2 linked regions of the Homo sapiens genome follow. The protein of the gene in region 2 purifies or fractionates together with the protein of the main gene of each other region. This does not show direct contact. Each region holds a gene or a part of one and is shown on either strand. Other genes may lie near its edges.

Region 1 (3,672 bases), on a different chromosome or scaffold from region 2:
CTGCCCTGCCTTGGAAGTCGGGTGGGGGCAGTGCTGGAGGGGCACTGGACAGGTGAGTTTTGCAGGACGTGTAAGAATTTCCCAGGAGGAGGGCACAGCTGTGAGCAAAAAAGTACAGAAAGTCAGAAGCTGAGTTGGAGAAGTTTGGACAGGGGAGGAGGTAGCATCGGGCACCAGGACCAGTGGTTTGGGCTTGGGGGCAGGAGAAGCCTTCCCAGCTCTGCAGCGGGGCAGGACCCTAAGCCCTTCCCATCCCCTAGAGCCGCGCCCTGGTCGGCCAGTCACGGAGGAAGCCATGCGAAAGCGACTTTGAGACCATCAAACTCATTAGCAACGGAGCCTATGGGTGAGTCCCTGAGTCCTGCATAGACCCATTTCACAGATGCCTGAGGGGATGGTTGAGGCCCAGGCAGCTCCTGCATCCCCCTCCTACCCCAGCAGGGCTCACACATTCATCCTTGAATGGGCAGAGAAGGCACCTGAGGACTGGAGGGGGAAGTGGAGACACGCCATAGCGAGGTTACAGCCTCATGTGTGCTCTGTCCACGAGCCAGGCCTTTACCTGCCCCAGGTGTAGGGCGTTCTAGGGGCTTGGGGGCTGATCAAGGAAATAGATGCCCACCCAGTGGGAGTAGCACGCAGTGAGCTTTATTTAGGTGCTGCTTTGAATGGCAGGCTTGCATACAAGGGAAGTCCCTCATAGCATAAGCCTTTTGGAGGCTGAGGTTCCAGGAGTCACCATCAAGAGGGAGAGGCCGGCAAGGGAACTCCCCGGGCAGAGGGGGATCAGAGAGGGGGCTTACATGTCTAGGTGATGTTGTTCAACAGCATGGGCACTCAATCTCTGGGTCAGAGACTCCCTGCAGGGTGGTAGCAGCTTAGGGTCTTGAAATCCACAAAGTTCATCTTATCCATGGCTCAGAGATGGTGCAGTTTCACGAGTCTGCAAAGCAGACAGGCTCTCAGTGGCTAAAATTTTGCTTACTTGGTCTGTGTGTAAAACAAACGGATGTGTAAAACTTTGAGTTTGGTGCTAGCGGTCTTTTAAAAGAGCTAGACCAGGTGCGGAGGCACTTTGGGAGGCCAAGGTAGGAGGATCGCTTGAGGCCAGGAGTTCGAGACCAGCCTGGGCAACATGGCAAAACTCCATCAATACTAAAAATAGAATAATTAACTGGGCGTAATGGCACATGCCTGTAATTCCAGCTACTTGGGAGGCTGAAGTTGGAGGATCACCTGAACCCAGGAGGCAGAGGTTGCAGTGAGCCGAGATCACCCCACTGCACTCCAGCCTGGGTGACACAGTGAGACCATCTCAAAAAAAAAAAAAAAGGAAAGAAAGAAAGAAAGAAATACACAAGCAGCCAGGTGCAGTGGCTCTCGCCTATAATCCCAGCACTTTGGGAGCCCGAAGTGGGAGGGTCACTTGAGGCCAGGAGTTTGAGACTAGCCTCCACAACATAGCGAGACCCCATCTCTACAAAAAATTTAAACATTAGCCAGGTTCTGTTGTGGGAGGATCATTTGAGCCGGGGGGGTGGTAAAGACTATAGTGAGCCGTGATCTCATGACTGTGCTCCAGCCTGGGCAACAGAGTGAGGCGCTATCTCAAAAAACATAAGATAAAATAAAAATAAAAGAAACATACAACCTAGAGGCCAATATACAAGGGCCATGTGCAGCCCATTTATATGGCCCCCAGCCATGGTGGCTTAAACCCAAAGGTGGCTGCTCTGGGAGGGGGAACAGGTAAGGAGAATGGGTGGCCCAGGTGGAGGGCACAGCACAGGCAAAGGCCAGGCAGGTTGGGATCTGGGCTCAAGTTGAGCTGTAGTGCCTGCTGGGGCCTCGATCTCCGGTCCCAGCAAGCCTGGCCCTCTGTCCCCAGGGCCGTCTACCTGGTGCGGCACCGTGACACACGGCAGCGCTTTGCCATCAAGAAGATCAACAAACAGAACTTGATCCTGCGTAACCAGATCCAGCAGGTCTTTGTGGAGCGTGACATTCTCACCTTTGCCGAGAACCCCTTTGTGGTCAGCATGTTCTGCTCCTTTGAGACCCGGCGCCACCTATGTATGGTCATGGAATACGTGGAAGGTACGCTCACTGGGGCTTGCATGCCTCCAGCGATGGGGAGCTCACCCCTCCACGCCTGGGAGAAAATTTTTAGACCAAGTTGAGGTCTGTTCTGTCCTCCATGAGGTCTCACCCTGCTTTGGGGAACCCTCAGGAACCCCAGTCTGGGGTAGGGAGCCCAGCCATGGGGGTTTAGGGCTGGAGGAGCCCAGACAGGAGTGTGTGAGGATGGGACCCTGGAGGCAAGAGGAGGGTGGCCATCCTAGGTGGGGGGAACTGATGGGCAGAGGCCTGGAGACCAGAAGTGAAGGCAGGGAGATGTATGGTTCAGGCAGGTAAAGTACTATTACCAAAGTACTGCCAGGCGAGAGAGCGAACATGCACTTAGGAGACACCAGCTGTATACAGCACTAATTGCTGCCCTGTCGGGGAGAATCAGAAGGCAGGGTCTCAGCTTGGCGCGCTGGCTCACGCCTGTAGTCCCAGCACTTTGGGAGGCCGAAGTGGGCTGATCGCTTGAGGTCAGGACTTCGAGACCAGCCTAAGCAACATGGCGAAACCCCCATTCACGCCTATAGTCCCAGCTACTCGGGAGGCTGAAGCAGGAGATTCGCTTGAACTCTAGAGGCGGAGCTTGCAGTGAGCCGAGACTGCGCCACTGCACTCTAGCCTGGGCAACAGAGCGGGCAACAGAGTGAGACTCTGTCTCAAAAAAATAAATAAAAATTTAAAAAATAGGCCAGGCGCGGTGGCCAACGCCTGTAATCTCAGCACTTTGGGAGGCCAAGGCTGGTGGATCACGAGGTCAAGAGATCGAGACCATCCTGACCAACATAGTGAAGCCCCATCTCTACTAAGAATACAAAAATTAGCTGGGTGTGGTGGTGTGCGCCTGTAATCCCAGCTACTCTGGAGGCTGGGGCAGGAGACTCGCTTGAACCCGGGAGGCGGAGGTTGCAGTGAGCCGAGATCGCGCCACTGCACTCCAGCCTGGCGACAGAGCGAGACTCTCTCTCAAAAAGAAGAAAAAATTAAAAAATTAAAAATAAATGAAGGTAGGGTCCGCCCCTTCCCTCTCCCCCGACCCTCCCCGCTGAGATAGAACAAACTGGGGACCTTTTGCAGGAGGTAAAGCGAGGAGGATGCATAGGCATTGGGCATAACCTAAGGGGCGGGCGGGGGGCGGGGGTGCCCCGGGCCTCATGACTACATCCGCCCTTCTCCCAGGCGGCGACTGCGCCACGCTCCTGAAGAACATGGGCCCGCTGCCCGTGGACATGGCCCGCCTGTACTTCGCCGAGACGGTGTTGGCGCTGGAGTACCTGCATAACTATGGCATCGTGCACCGTGACCTCAAACCAGACAAGTGAGCTGAGCTAGCATGAGCGGGGCCTCGCGGAGGGCGGGGCCAGAGAGGATCAGGGGCGGGGCCAAAGAGGATCAGGGCAGAGCCTCTGAGGTGCATCCCGGGACCCTTCAGGAGCCCCATCTGTCTGAGCTCTGTTGGTACCTCCTGACAGGAAGGCAGGGAATGAGCGCATGGTGAACATCTTGTGTGTACAGAGGAGAGGAGAGCAGACACTTAATAGGCGTCTG
Region 2 (3,600 bases):
TTCCAGGAACTTGAGAATCAATAACTCTTTAAACCAGTGGTAATTCATGTGGAAAAGTTCAGAACAAATCAGCATCAACTTCCTGGCTCTCTTGCACAGACAAAAAATTCATATTGCTTCACCAATTTTCAAAAATGTAAATTTGTGTATATAAGTTTAAAACTTGGACCAAAAGTTATCTACATTTATTCCCAATTTGCGACTGGTATCAAGATCAATTAACTTTCTCAGCAAGTACACTGTTATAAAATTCCACAGTGATCCCAGAATGGAAGGGGCTTAAAAAATAATATAAAACAAAAATTAAACTCCACAGTGAAGTAGGTCTATGTTTAATCATTCAGAAAAAGAAAATTATGTAACATATTATATATAATGATGATGATAACATATGCTGTTCTGGACTCCTACTGAGAGCTGTGGTTCAAAGGGAAATCGTGAAAATAAAGTAAAAATTGCCGAAAATGTTTAATTCTGCCCAAAACAGTTTCCAAAAAAGAAGCCAAATATAATATTTTATTTTAAGTTCAAACAGGGTTCAAACAGCTCAGAAATTTTGTATACTTAAGTTTTCAGAAGTCGAATCCCAGAACCGCTATCAACATAAACTGAATAACTTGCTCAAGAGTCCTTACTTATTACCCAATCTTAGGTCCCCCAGAATACTTCTTAAAATAATCCCAAATGTACTACAATAGATTAGCGTAACCGGGGCTACGCTGTTTACAGGTGTCTCCACCTCCTCCCCCAAGGAGAGAAGAGGTATACTAGGGTAAACAGAAAATAGAAGGAGACTATATACACACCAAATAACAGCTTGTAATCTTCTAAGACTTCTTTTACATTCGGGCTATTCTTTTCATTAACGTATAATACATTTTAAAGAATAACATATTCACAGAGTAATACAATTTCTGCCCTCACGGGTCTCTAGCTGGCTGACACGCGTTTTCTCCTCAAATAAATACATGCCTGTTGACTGATGCCTGTCCTGCTGTTGCAAACAAGAAATAACTGTCCTATAAGACAAAAACCTCTCTCTACGGTTCTAGGCGTAACCATACGTTTGAATTAAAAGCACATTGGAACAACAACAACAATCTTCCAGCACATCTGTCATTTAAAAGCACGATAATGAAAAGCTGTCGCTGCGACCCAATTTTAGGTCACAAGCTTTTTACTGTTTTTCCTGCCCCCCACCTCCAGAAAACAATAAACTTCAAAGGGAATGGTGGTAACCAGGAACAGTTCCCTTCCCCCACCACACACCCCCCCAAAAAGACTAGAAAAAAAACTGGTCAACTTGGACGCTGGCCGCGCTCACGCAGAACCCGTGCCCGCGGGCCGGGGAAGGCTGAACAGACCCTGGGAGGAAAAGTGGGCCTGCAGGCACCCCGGGCTCCCCCCGCCGCCTGTCTCAGATACCGAGCAGGTGGGATTCCGGGAAGCCACCTCCGACTTACGTAACGGGCTTGTCAAAATCCCAGATCCAGGACCTCCCCCTCCCCGCCCCCACTCCCAAATAACAACAGCCCCAGGCCAGCCTGGAATAGAAAATCTGGAATGAAAACACAGGAGCCCCCCACGCGTCCGACGCAGAGGCGCGGGTGCTACTCTCAGCACCGCCGCGCCATCCCGGGGCGGACCGAGCCGCGGAGCACCTCCCGGATCTCAGGAGCTCTCGGGCGGAGATCTCGGCCATCCGTGCCTCCTCCCCGAACCCACCCGCCCCGCTCCCGCGCCCCCGGCTGTCACCTCTCCGGGCCGTGACAGCTCCACCTGCCACCGCTGCCCGGGTCGCCGCCCCCGCACTCACCACCCAGCTGGCTCCCGTGCGAGCAGCGGATCGAGCTCGGAGAGCGGCGCCGGAATCCCGCACGCGCGGTAGCGGAACACGAGGGGCTGAATGCCGCGGCGCTCTGAGCCCGCTTAGCTCATCCCCAGCCCGGCGCTCCGCCCTTCGCGGCACCCCCGCCCGCCCGCCCAGGCCTGCCGTCTCAGTCAGACGGGACTCCCCCTCCCCTCGCGGCCGCCACTGCCTCCGCCTCTTTCTCCGACTCTAGCCTCCGCGGCCACCGCGACCGGCGCCATCTTGGCAATGACGGAAGGGGCGGGGGCGGGAATCACGCCCGCGAGCACCAATCGAAGGCCGGATCTGGCCCGAGTGGGAGGAGAGGGCCGAGTTGAGGGTCGTGGGGTCCTAGCGCCAAACTGATAATGGGGCGGTGAAGGTGGGCGGGACTAAGTCGCCTTAGTCCGTGACGTGCGGTGTAGTTGGGGAAACGCACCGTGGTTCCCCGTCGGGTCAGGAGATCCCGAGCCCCAGGCTGGCGTGGGCGAAGCGTACAATCCCTTCACCTTTCGTCACCCAGAGGCACAAGAATCCAGTTCGCGCCAACTGACCTGTTTCTTCCTTCCTCCCCGGCACTCTGGGAGTCCTGAGATTGCCTTGCTCGGTTCGTCTCAGACTTGCTAGATCTGAGCAGCTGCTGCTCCTCCACCAAGGGTGCTCACATTCTCCAGGAAACTCCCTTAAGGGTTAGCAACCGCCGAGTAGGTTTCGGTCCCAAGATAGAAAGGTAAAGCGGGGAATTCAGGGGGTTTCTCCGAAAAGTACGTTGATGAAACAGCTATTGTTGACTGACGGGGTGTCGATTACTTTGGATTAATTGGATACGGCCTACTTAAACCTGACTGTGGCTCTCCACCATTGATGGCTGTTGACAGATGAGGTTAATAAAGCTTGATTACCCCCATGGGGTTGCTCGGGAGTTAAATTCTATAGTACCTGTGAAGTACTTAGTATAGTGCTTGAAAGTACTCAATAAATGTTAGACATTATTCCATGGACAAATGAAAGAAGAAACAGGACCCCCAAAATCCCTCTGCTTTAAAGTCAACTTTTCCTAAATTGCATAGCCTTTTACTAACCAAGTTTACAACTTTATTTCCTACCTCCAGTTCTTTCATTGTATTCATTCATTCAGTCAACAAACATCCATACAGAGGGTGCACAGTGGTGAGGGAAACAGAAAACCTTTGCCTTCAGGAAACTGCAGTTTAGTGGGAGAAGAGGGACAATAAAAAAGTACTTAAGCACATTTTAAGGGGAAACATGCTATAAAGGTTAGAAAAATAACTGAGGCCAGGCGCCTTTGCTCATGCCTGTAATCCCAACGCTTAGGGAGGCCGAGGCAAGAGGGTCAGCTTGAGCTCAGAAGTTCAAGACTAGCCTGGCAAAATGGCGAGAACCCTGTCTCCACCAAAAATACAAAAAATTAGCCGGGCGTGGTGGCGTGCGCCTGTGGTCCCAGCTACTTGAGAGGCTGAGGTGGGAGGATCGCTTGAGCCCCAGAGCCGGAGGCTGCAGTGAGCCGAGATTGTGCCACTGCACTCCAGCCTGGGTGACAGAGCAAGATTTTGCTTTAAAACAAAACAAAACAATCGAGTTGCATACTTTAAATATATGTAGTCCTCTGTATGTCAGTTAAAGCTGTAAAAAAAGACTTGTTTTTGACACAGAGTCTTGCTATGTTGCCCAGGCTGGAGTGCAGTGGCCTGATCACGGCTTACTACAGCCTCCCTCCCAGGCTCAATTGA

What was found. The genes of interacting proteins can lie anywhere in the genome.
Region 1: the proteins of DENND4A (region 2) and MAST3 purify together in Homo sapiens (affinity purification with mass spectrometry, with the first as the bait; one large-scale study listed by BioGRID). This does not show direct contact.

Annotation. Positions count from the first base shown.
Region 1 is NC_000019.10:18,128,606-18,132,277, forward strand, and holds part of MAST3 (microtubule-associated serine/threonine-protein kinase 3), read left to right. Parts: intron 1-260; coding exon 261-346; intron 347-1,888; coding exon 1,889-2,097; intron 2,098-3,303; coding exon 3,304-3,442; intron 3,443-3,672.
Region 2 is NC_000015.10:65,790,194-65,793,793, forward strand, and holds the start of DENND4A (C-myc promoter-binding protein), read right to left. Parts: upstream 2,101-3,600; 5' UTR 1,817-2,100; exon of another isoform or gene 1,756-1,816; intron 1-1,755. UniProt on the Homo sapiens protein: Probable guanine nucleotide exchange factor (GEF) which may activate RAB10. Promotes the exchange of GDP to GTP, converting inactive GDP-bound Rab proteins into their active GTP-bound form.